3 linked regions of the Homo sapiens genome follow. The protein of the gene in region 1 purifies or fractionates together with the protein of each later gene. This does not show direct contact. Each region holds a gene or a part of one and is shown on either strand. Other genes may lie near its edges.

What was found. Proteins that work in one complex are often made in the same cells at the same time.
Region 2: the proteins of OR5H1 (region 1) and RBFOX3 purify together in Homo sapiens (affinity purification with mass spectrometry; one large-scale study listed by BioGRID and IntAct). This does not show direct contact.
Region 3: the proteins of OR5H1 (region 1) and TBC1D24 purify together in Homo sapiens (affinity purification with mass spectrometry; one large-scale study listed by BioGRID and IntAct). This does not show direct contact.

Annotation. Positions count from the first base shown.
Region 1 is NC_000003.12:98,129,442-98,133,520, forward strand, and holds the start of OR5H1 (olfactory receptor 5H1), read left to right. Parts: upstream 1-1,279; 5' UTR 1,280-1,409; intron 1,410-3,238; 5' UTR 3,239-3,256; coding exon 3,257-4,079. UniProt on the Homo sapiens protein: Odorant receptor.
Region 2 is NC_000017.11:79,608,252-79,612,218, reverse strand, and holds the start of RBFOX3 (RNA binding protein fox-1 homolog 3), read left to right. Parts: upstream 1-1,167; 5' UTR 1,168-1,393; intron 1,394-3,057; exon of another isoform or gene 3,058-3,148; intron 3,149-3,605; exon of another isoform or gene 3,606-3,701; intron 3,702-3,967. UniProt on the Homo sapiens protein: Pre-mRNA alternative splicing regulator. Regulates alternative splicing of RBFOX2 to enhance the production of mRNA species that are targeted for nonsense-mediated decay (NMD).
Region 3 is NC_000016.10:2,492,127-2,495,626, forward strand, and holds part of TBC1D24 (TBC1 domain family member 24), read left to right. Parts: intron 1-3,500. UniProt on the Homo sapiens protein: May act as a GTPase-activating protein for Rab family protein(s). Involved in neuronal projections development, probably through a negative modulation of ARF6 function. Involved in the regulation of synaptic vesicle trafficking.

The sequences.
Region 1 (4,079 bases):
GTCCACCCCTATGATCCAATCACCACTCACCTGGACCCTCTCCAACATTGGGGATTGGAATTCAACATGAAATTTGGGTAGAGCAGCAAATCCAAACCATATCACCATCCATAATCCAAGTGCAGGCAATTTTATTTCTTTAATAAATACTTTTGCTGTCAAGAAAGGTACATGTCACTATTTAAATATGAAATATAAATATTACAAGTAGGTAAATTAGGTTTTCTTTTTTGAATGGATGCTCCTTAACATGTTATTCTGTTAATGCTCTAAAGAAAATTCTGAACATGCTATCACCATTTTCAAAATCGTTCAATAATAGTTCATTGGTTTTCCTGTAAGTTGGGGTAAAGAACATATCTTTGAACTACCCGACAAGGTCCCACCCATGCTGGCCTCCCTGAACACACTTGGTCCTTCCTGATTCTCTCTTTGCATACCAGCCACATTTATTATTTGTTGTTTCTTCAATGATCAAGGCTTTCTGATAATCTAGGTCTTCCCACCATGAAGACCTGTTGGATGCAAATGTCCACAGGCACTGCTTTGTTAAAAATAAAGGCTCTTGAGAGACCCACCCCAGAATTACTGAAACAGAATCTGCGTTTTGACAACATCACTAGGAAAATCATAGGCATTATAGTTTGAGAAGCACAGACCTAGGACACCTCCCACTGCAAGCCACTCCCTGGCTTTGTTTTACATTTGCTTTTTGTCTTCTTCCTAGTAAAATTTCCCATTGGATTTTAGCTTATAATGGGGGATCTAAATATATGTCTAAAATTTGCATGTCTGAAATTTGCATGGGAAGGACAATTGTATTTGAGGTTGCTCCCAAAGAGGATCTAGAACTTTGGCTTTATTAAAATTATGTTTTGGTTACTTCAAATAAGACTATACTAATTAAAGCACTAACAGTAAATTTTACATATAAACTAAAGTTTGAACAAATATGCCAGAAGTGTCATCCATGGTGGTAAATAGTAACATAAAGTGTTATTTCAATTGTTAAAACTAGAAGTGTCTACCATGAAATGATGTTTGTGATTCCAGAAGTTTGTAATGCCCTTGGGGACAACCTGAACTTACACTTGTGCAAATGCACAATGCCCATTAGAACAGCTTCAATTTGTCCTACAGGGAGTCCTCTGACACTGTTATGAGAATTTCAGTTTTTCATTCCTTTCTCTTCTGGCAAAAGACCCTAGTGGCACAACTGGGTCATTTATGTGCTCAAAGCATATTTAATAAACAACATTTTTCTATGCTTGGAAAAAGAAACCTTCAAAAAGAATGAATATGCCATGAATGGCTACCTGTATTATTGACATTGCTGTGCTACTGTATGTATTTTTGTTTAGAAAGCACAACGTGTTTAAAGGATATCCACAATTTCCTTCAATATATGGGTAAGGAAGAAATAACTTCTCTAATTTTTATTATAATTTATAGAAATGTTGATAATGCCATTTAATTCATTAAAATTTTAGATTGGGTAACAAGTTGTCATAATAGAAAGTCAGAAACTGGATGACTCTGACTGGACTATTTTTATATTTTAGTTTTATGACTCTAATATGGATAAAGAGTTATAAGACTGAATTTTTCCTTTAATATTTTGCTATTTTGTTAATCTTATTATGATGAGTTTATATAAATTAGGGCATTAAACAACTAAAACTTGGTTTAAAGATTCAGATAATAATGATTCTTAGAATTATTTCTTGGAATTATTCTGATATAAATACCCATTCCTCTGAATCAACCACATTCTCCAATTAAAACTTTTAAGGTGAGTCACTTACATATTAACTCCTGTATCCTTACACTCATGTTTGACAATAATTTGAGAGCTCACACTGTAAATTTTGTTGATGTGAATAAAGGTTGCATTAAGTAAAGTCCTGGTATTTTGGCTTTGGCTGCCTTGAAACCAATATCTTTTGTCCCTCTCTCCATATTCCAAATGTAGGATCAGTGTATTTAATTGGCCATCCTAGATCATGTCCCTTCACTTTAGATGTAAGAAAAATGGGAAAATGAGTTTCTAGTTCTTTTGGCAGTATGTTACCTCTGACAGCCACTATGATTTCGATGGCAAAAAAGGAGATCACACCTTGGCCATTTACAGGACATATGTCCACCTTGTTACCTCCTTAATATAACTTGCTCAAGTTGATTTTCTTGCCATTCCTTTTGGTTCTGTTTTACACTCCAAGGATGCATCATCTTTAACTATGCCTTTGACTGCCTTTGACTACCACAATGAATCCAAGCAATCATTTCTATTGAGCTCTAATAGGCTCATATTACTGATTGGAACACATCTAGTTGTCCAGATGATGCTCACTCCAAAAACTTGTCAGCACACCTGAGTTCTCAATGTTTAATATCCATCTTCCCAGTCACCAAGGGACTCCTCTCTCCTTCACTGACCACTTACTGCCTACAAAATATGTCACAGAATACTAGAGACTCTACATTCTGAATTCTTTAGAATCTATTTCTTTGTCTTACTGTCTCTTTCAATGTCATATCACACCAAGACCATACATTTAACATGCATTTGAATCCCCCGGAGGGTATTTTCAAAATGCAGATCCCCAGACCTAATTCCTTAAATAACTTCTACATTAAAACCTCATAACATATTTTTCATAAAAACTCACTCAGATAATTTTTATGTGTAATGTGATTTGGGATTGCCTGGGCCTTACTAACAAGTTTCTAATTAATATCCCTGAGTACAGTTTCTTCTTCTTGCAGCATATTTTCTACACTATCAAAAACTAAATTAAAAAAAATTAGGATGTAATTTCCCATCTTAAAATTTTTGGCACATGCTTATTGTATGAAGAATAAAGTTTAAGATACTTCACATGGCATTTATTTTATTTATTTTTAATTCAGACCGTACAAAAATCTTTCCTGTTGACATTGTATCATATGCCAGTCAAACAATTTTTCTACTGCACTCAATAGTGTCCATATAAATGTTGTGCATACAGAGAATGCCTCTTGTTTTACCTAAATCTGCTAATTACTGCACAGTTTCAAACCAAAATATATCATTTTTTCATGTCTTTATTGCAACAAATAGAGATTCATCAGCTATAGGACTGATCAAAAAATTGAGAGGGTTCTGATCATTTTAGGTTTTCCTTCAGCACCTCTTCCCCAATTTCAACTGATAATGCCATTGCAAATGTTCCCTTTCATTTGTTGCATTTTATTTTAGAGGGCATGCTGTGAGGACATGGAAGAGGAAAATGCAACATTGCTGACAGAGTTTGTTCTCACAGGATTTTTATATCAACCACAGTGGAAAATACCCCTGTTCCTGGCATTCTTGGTAATATATCTCATCACCATCATGGGGAATCTTGGTCTGATTGCTGTCATCTGGAAAGACCCTCACCTTCATATCCCAATGTACTTACTCCTTGGGAATTTAGCTTTTGTGGATGCTTGGATATCATCCACAGTGACCCCAAAGATGCTGAATAACTTCTTAGCTAAGAGTAAGATGATATCTCTCTCTGAATGCAAGATACAGTTTTTTTCGTTTGCAATCAGTGTAACCACGGAATGTTTTCTCTTGGCAACGATGGCATATGATCGCTATGTAGCCATATGCAAACCTTTACTTTATCCAGCCATTATGACCAATGGACTGTGCATCCGGCTATTAATCTTGTCATATGTAGGTGGTATTCTTCATGCTTTAATCCATGAAGGATTTTTATTCAGACTAACCTTCTGTAACTCCAACATAGTACATCACATTTACTGTGACACTATCCCATTGTCTAAGATTTCTTGTACTGATTCTTCTATTAATTTTCTAATGGTTTTTATTTTCTCAGGTTCAATTCAGGTATTCAGCATTGTGACTATTCTTGTATCTTATACATTTGTTCTCTTCGCAATCTTAAAAAAGAAATCTGATAAAGGTGTAAGGAAAGCCTTTTCCACCTGTGGAGCCCATCTCTTCTCTGTCTCTTTATACTATGGACCCCTTCTCTTCATTTATGTGGGCCCTGCATCTCCGCAAGCAGATGATCAAGATATGGTGGAGC
Region 2 (3,967 bases), on another chromosome or scaffold:
TCGTTTCTCCAGCCTGGTTGCTGCACCAGAATGTCTTTTGTTTTGGAAATGATTACTCAGCCTCCTGCCTAAACCTGTTTGGGACCGTCCAGACCTTCTTGCCCACTTCTGGTGTTGTGTGCCAGTGGTGGGCTGACCCCAGCAATAGATCTCTCCTGCCTTTCCAGAGGGTCCCCACTCCACTGTGTCCTCAGCCTCTGCTCTCCTGCTCCCTCTGCACCAAGGATAGAGACCCTCCCAGAACTCACACCAGGCCCCTTACTCTAGATGCTGGGGGAGGCTGGGACTGGGGACAGGAGCTACCTGATCTTTTGATTTTAGGGAAATCCTAAGCTGACCTCCCACAGTCCTTCCTCTCCAGCCAGGCACAGGTGGAAATGTTTAAATGGGTTGGGTTGGCCAATCTGGACTAACAGCACGGAGTGGGCCCGATCCCTTCCTTTCCAGTGGTCCTCCAGGAAGTCAGGGCACCTGGGCCTAGTGAGGGGGTTTGGGGTATGTGGGCAACTCAAAGGCATGGCATGGCATGCGGGGTGGGGTGGCATTCGTCCCTGATGCTTGGTGACCACGTCCCATTGCTGGGGATCCCTGGGCCTGGCAAAGAAAAATGGCCCCCAGGGACAGCGAGGCACAAGGGCAGGGGTCCTGTTAAGGGTCACCTGGGTTGATCCGCCCCCAAGATAGCTTGGAGGTGGGGAGGGGCAGCGGGCTTGGGGCTGCCCTTGAAGGGACCAGGGCAGCACTGGGTTCTGGGATCTTCCGTGTGTACCCCACCTCTTCTGTGCCCCTGCCCCGAGGAGTTGGCGCTGAAGGCTGCAGGGTGCTGACCGCCGAAGCCCACCCGGTCATGGCTCTCCCCGCTCCGCCGCCCTCCCCGGCCGCGCGACAGCCAGAGCCCCCTCCCATGCCGCGCGCTGCGCGCTCCGCTCGAGCTGCCACCGCCGCCCGCGCCGCCGCCGCGTGCTCCTGCTGCCGCCTCGCTCCAGCCGAACGAGCCAGAGGAACGAGAGAGAGAGAGAGAGAGAGAGAGAGAGAAGGAGGGCGGAGAGAGAGAGAGAGAGAGAGAGAGAGAGAGAGAGAGAGAGAGAAGGAGGGCGGAGAGAGGAGGGAGGAGAGAGAGAGAGAGAGGAGGCGAGGGAAGAGCGAGCGCGGGGCTGCTCCGAAGCCAGCAGAACCTCCTCGGACAGCGGCCCCAGCCGGGCCCCAGCAGCTCGCGTGGTCGGAGGAGAAGCAGCTGCCACAGCTGCCGCCCGAGCCCGGCCTCGCGCGCCCCTTGCCGCTGGCTCGCCGGTGCCTGTGCGGCCCCAGGACGCCGCTGCCCGCTCGGCGGCCGGGATGCAGCCGGGGCATGGCCGCCGGCCCCCAGTCACCTGCCGCGGGGAGCGCTGAGCCCGTGAGTAGCCTGGCCTCGTCGCCCGCCTCGCTCTGCGGCGGTCATTCCCATCGGGCTGAGCTGGGGGAGGGGGACATGGCCGCGGAGGGGCGCATGGGACCCCGCAGTGGGAGGCGGGCTGCTGAGCGCGGCCGGGGCTGACCCGAGGGCGCGTGGGGTGGGGTGGCGCCCTCGGGGTCAGGGGTCCCTGCGCGGGGTCGGGGTCCCTGGGTCCCTCCGGGGCTGGGGTCTGGACGCTCTGTCCGGCCGTGGGCCAGAGGGGCGATTTTGTGAATGGGAAGGCCCGGGGGTCGGGCTCCATGGAGACGCCAGGGAGTCCCGCGCGCTGCGTGGCGGTGGCAGTGGCGGTGGCGGTGGCGGTGGTGGTGGCTGTGGCGGCGGCGGCGGCGGCACAATGCCCGGCGCGGGGAACTCCCCGGCGGGGGGAGGCAGAGGCGCGCGGAGATCCCGGCCCCGCGGGGCGCGTCCGAGCAGGCAGCCGGAGCCCGCGCGGGTGGGAGAGAGGCTGGCGACCCGGCGGTGGTGCAACGTGCGTCTGTCGCGGCACCCAGGCCCGGAGAGAGCCCTGCCGGGGTCCTCTGAAAGGAGGGTCGCTGAGAGGTTGATGACCCAAAGGAGTTGTGGGGAGGAAGGGGCTGCCACAGCTCCCCAAATAGGAGCGGGGCCCGCAGCACCGCGGTGTGCGCGGGGGCCGAGCAGCGAGGGGCGAGCGGCGCGCAGGGCCCTACAGGGGGCGGGCTGGGGGCGCTCCGGGCCGAGTCCCCAAGCACGATAGGAAGGCTGGAACGGGAGCAGAGGCTGCCTCTCTGAAGCCTCGGCCACCCCCAGGGCCTCGAGCAGCGCGGCCGGGCTGGGAAAGCCGGGCACGCCCCTGGCCCAAACTTTCTGCCCTGGTGGCCCCGGGCGGTGGTGGGGCTCGCCCGGGGCGTGTTGGGCTCGCACGCTCGGGAAGGTGGTCTTCTGTGGCGTCTCGGGGTGGCGCGAGGCCAGTGGTCATTTTGGTGCTGGGGGTCGCAGCCTCCCTCCCCGGGACGCGGAGCCTCCCCTGGCGCGCAGCCCTGCAGTGTCGGTGCGGGGACCGAGACGCGGCGCCCCGCGTGGAGGGGCATTGGGAACCTGTCGGGTCCCCAAGCGGCCCTGGGATCCCTGGTATCACGTAGGGTGGGGGTGGGATGTTCCCGGAGTCCACTGGTGGGGGCGGGGGCCCAGCGAGGTGGGGAGAAACTCCTGGACAACAGAGCTGCCTCCCCCTCCCCTTTCCGTTCCAGCTTTGGCGAGGTACCTGATTTATTTAATGATCACTTTTAAAAAGGAGTCCCGCGGAGCCGCTAGTCCCGACGCGCGAGACACCCCACGGTGGAGGCTAAGGACAGAGACCCAAGGGATCCATCCCTGGGTTTAAGTCCCCCTTCCTGCCCCAGCTGGTGGTGAAGTCGCTTCTCGGGCGCGCAGGTTGCTAATTTCCTGCTCCAAACGCAGGTTGGACTCGGGGACGCCTTGGGCATGCACCCGGGCGCCCCGGGCACTTAGCGTGGAGCAGGTAGGAGGCTAATGGAGTGGGGTCGCCCGTAATGAGGTCTTTCAGCCGGAAGCCGGCTTCGGTTTTACTGGTCTGCAAAACATAATGGAAAAAAAAAGTATAAACATTGCGGCAGAACCTGCTCATTAAGTGTGCATCGCGGATTCGGGACGGATGTCTTAATTAGGCTGCGTTGTTCACGGGGATATTACACTAATTAAAAACCGACCCTCCAGGTGAGCAAAAATTGTGAGGGGAGAGAGGGAGAAAAGTTGTCGAGAAGGCGCTGCCTGATGAAAGCCGGGTATGGGCCTCTTGCAGGGGCGCCCCAGGTCACTGAGCGCCGGCGGGGTGGGGGCGTGGGGGCGGCATGGCGGGGGCGGAGGAGGGGAGCCTTCTTAGAACCATCCCGGCGCGCCTTCCTTCTCCGCCTCCTGCGGGCGAGGAGCTCCCTTTGGCCGAGGACCGAGGCTGGCCCCCCCGCCCCTCCCCCAGGACTGGAGGCCTTCCTGCGTGGGCGCCTCGCTCACCGCTCACCGCACACTCCTGGAAGCAACGCTTAACCCTTCATTTCCTGGCTGACAGCTTCTGGGAGGGCAAGGCTGTCCCCAGGAGGGAGACAGAGCGGGTGACGTGGGGACCACTGAAGGGGTTAAGGAGCAAGAAGCACGGTTGAAGGGACGCACCCAAGCCGAGACAGCCTGGGCCTGGCGAGGTGGCTGCGTGCGTGCGGCAGGGGTTGCCACTGGTGCTGGGCTGTTTGCGCTTGCACGGCCGGGGTTTTCTGGGGTGAGTTGTCCATTTCTAGCAGCTATCCACCCTCCTCCCCCCAAAGAAAAAAGGGAACCTGGGTGATTGCTTTGATCCACCTTCCTCAGGGGCCTGGGGCCTAGAGAGACCCGTGCCCACCCCGGGGACCTCGGGTCGCCTCTGGGTGCCAGGAGGAGCCAGGAGTCCAGGGAAGTCCCTAGGCTCCGCCCCTTACTCGGATGGGCCTTTGCGGCAAATGCTCCGCACCCAGTGACCTCGGTTGGGAGCCACAGCGGGGCTGGGAG
Region 3 (3,500 bases), on another chromosome or scaffold:
CCTTTGCTGGCCTGGACCTGGTTTTTATAGATGCCTTAAGTGGGTTGTTGCCTTGTGTGCACAGCCCCAGAAATGTCGTGCGCTCTTTTTGAGTGAGGGTTTGGGGAACAAGAAAGAATCCAAGGGCTCCCTCGGGTCTTTTGCACACATCCTTGGCTCGGGGGTCCCTGTGAGTCCAGCACGTCGCCGGACCATTCGCGGCAGTAAACACAACTTGGGATCTGCATCTCCCTAAGGGAACTTCGCAAGGTGCACCCACAGCTTTTACTGTTTCCAGTTTAATATTCAACCTGAATCTGGGGCCAGCCGAGTGGAGGCTGGTGCTGCTCTGCCCAGCTCCTGTTCTGTTTAGAAACATGTTTATTGCCTTAAGAAGGAGCCAGTTCTTTCACCCAAACAGGATGGGCCTGGAGTTCCTCCAGAGGCTAGTGGGCCCATAGCAGGGAAGGAGGGATGTAAGCTGTGGATAACCGACCGACACGTGTAAGATTGTGCAGTGTGACCCAGGCGTGGCTGTGCGCATGTGAGTGGACCTGTCGGCCTGACCTTCAGGACCAGGGAAAGGGGGAGCCCTCACTGCCTTCCCTCCCAGGACGAAGCAAACCAATCAATGGTCTTAAGGGTTTCTTTTCTTCTGAGGCCTAGTCCTGCTGTGGGCAAGGTTTTTCCAGTGGGATACATTAAAATCAACTTCGGTGGCTCACGCTTCTAATCTCAGCACTTTGGGAGGCTGAGGCGGGCGGATCACCTGAGGTCGGGAGTTCGAGACCAGCCTGACCAACATGGACAATCCCTGTCTCTACTAAAAATACAAAATTAGCCGGGCGTGGTGGCACATGCCTGTAATCCCAGCTACTTGGGAGGCTGAGGCAGGGGAATCGCTTGAACCCAGGGAGGCGGAGGTTGCAGTGAGCTGAGATTACGCCACTGCACTCCAGCCTGGACGACAGTGCGGCACTCTGTCTCAAAAAAATAAATAAATAAAAAATGGCTAAAATGGTAAATTTTTTGTTTGTTTGTTTGTTTGTTTGAGACAGAGTCTTGCTCTGTCGCCTGGGCTGGAGTGCAGTGGCACAATCTCGGCTCACTGCAATCTCCGCCTCCCAGGTTCACGTCATTCTCCTGCCTCAGCCTCCCGAGTAGCTGGTACTACAGGCTCCCGCAACCACGCCCGGCTAGTTTTTTTGTATTTTTAGTAGAGACAGGGTTTCACTGTGTTAGCCAGGATGGTCTCGATCTCCTGACCTCGTGATCCACCCGCCTCGGCCTCCCAAAGTGCTGGGATTACAGGCGTGAGCCACCGCGTCCGGCCTAACATGGTAAATTTTATGCTATGTGTATTTTACCACACACACAAAAACACGTGTCGAGGTGTTTTCCCAAGACAGTGTCTCGCAGACGTACGTTTTACACTATGATTTTTACTTTTCAAGAACTGTTTTAAAGCAGTATTTGCCTTATAATAGGTAGGTGAATGTTCTAGCTGCAAGAGAAACCGGAGTGGTCTGGTCACTCAACCAAAACCTGCTGAAGCAGACCCCTGGGGCACACTGGGAACTTCTACCATCCCAGGTGGAAAGGTTAGTCTGATGTGCGTAAGCAAACCTTGCACTTCTGTGCGCAGGACGGTATCCTTGGGCCAGGGCAGCCACCTGTTGTCCAGAATCCCACAGGGCACGTCTTACCCACTCCTTTTATGTTTGCCTGAGCCCAGGGGTTGCTGTTCTTGGAGAAACACCAACCACCCCCACTTGACTTCTGGCCCATTCGGATCCAGAAATGTGCAGTTTTAAAGCTGCAGCACCTTCCATTTAGGTCCCAGCTCTCCCTCTGGAAAATGCCTGCTCCTCACCAGAGATTCCTCCCTGGAGCACCTGCCTGAAGCATAGCTTTCAAGCTGGTGGTTTTAGAAAGTTAAGAGCCGGCTTCAGAATTCCGACAGGGTGGGATAGCATAGGCTGTGACTTTCTTAGCACACACAGCTGGTTAAAGAGAACTGGGAACGGGCTGGGCGTGGTGGCTCACGCCTGTAATCCCAACACTTTGGGAGGCCGAGGTGGGTGGATCACGAGATCAGGAGTTCGAGACCAGCCTGGCCAACATGGTGAAACCCCATCTCTACTAAAAATACAAAAACTGGCTGGGTGTGGTGGCGGGTGCCTGTAGTCCCAGCTACTCAGGAGGCTGAGGCAGGAGAATCACTTGAGCCCGGGAGGCGGAAGTTGCAGTGAGCCGAGATTACGCCACTGCACTCCAGCCCGTGCGACAGTGCAAGACTCTGTCTCAAAAAAAAAAAAAAAGGGAGAACTAGAACGAAGCATCTCTTTGCTCAAAGTGATCTTCTCAACTGGGGGTTCCTTTTCAGAAGGCCCCCAGGGTGCAGGGTGGTGTTTAGGAGCCTGGAGTGGACCATGCTCGAGTGGAAAGGTGTTTTCAGCAGGGTCAGCCTCTTTTTTTGGTAGAGATGGGGTCTCACCATGTTGCCCAGGCTGGTCTTGAACTCCTGGCCTCAACTAGTCCTCCCACCTTGGCCTCCTGAGTAGCTGAGATTATAGATATGAGCCACTGTGCCCAGCCAAGGGCCAAGCTCTTGAAGCCCTTCTGGGAACTCTATCTCTAGCCTCTCATTACTCAGAATCTGTGTGATGTATTCCAGTAACTTCATAAGTTCTGTGAAAAGAAGGTATACTCCAAAGTTTGTAACGGCTTCTCAAAAGTCACTTATCTTAAGTGGAAGCCCTTCTAATACTTACACAAAGATTAAGGCAAATAATGTGGCTGCGCAACGTGACTCTCACTCGTAATTCCAGCATGGTGGGAAGATCACTTGAGGCCTGCGGTTCAAGGCCAACCTGGGTGACAGAACAAGACCCCATCACACACACACACACACACACACACACACACAAAATAAATAATAATAATAATAATAAACAAAAAAACAGGCCAGGAGCACTGGCTCACACTTGTAATCCCAGCACTTTGGGAGGCTGTGGTGGGTGGATTGCTTGAGATCAGGAGTTTAAGACCAGTCTGGGTAACATGGCAAAATCTCGTCTCTACTAAAAAGAGAAAAAATTAGCTGGGCGTGGTGGCGCCTAACTGTAGTCTCAGCTATAGCTGAGGTGGGAGGATCACCTGAGCCCAGGAGGCAGAAGTTGCAGTGTGCCGAGATGGTGCCATTGCACTCTAGCCTGGATGTCAGCACAAGACCTTGTCTCAAACAAAACAAAACAAGGCCGGGCACAGTGGCTCATGCCTGTAATCCCAACATTTTGGGAGGCCAAGACAGGAGGATTGCTTGAGCCCAGGAGTTCAAGACCAGCCTGGAGAGCATAGCGAGACCCTGTCTCTACAAAAAAATAAAAAATTAGGCCAGGGCGGTGGCTCTCGTCTGTAATCCCACACTTTGGGAGGCCAAGGCAGGCACATCACAAGGTCAGGAGTTTGAGACCAGCCTGACCAACATGGTGAAACCCTGTCTCTAGTAAAAATACAAA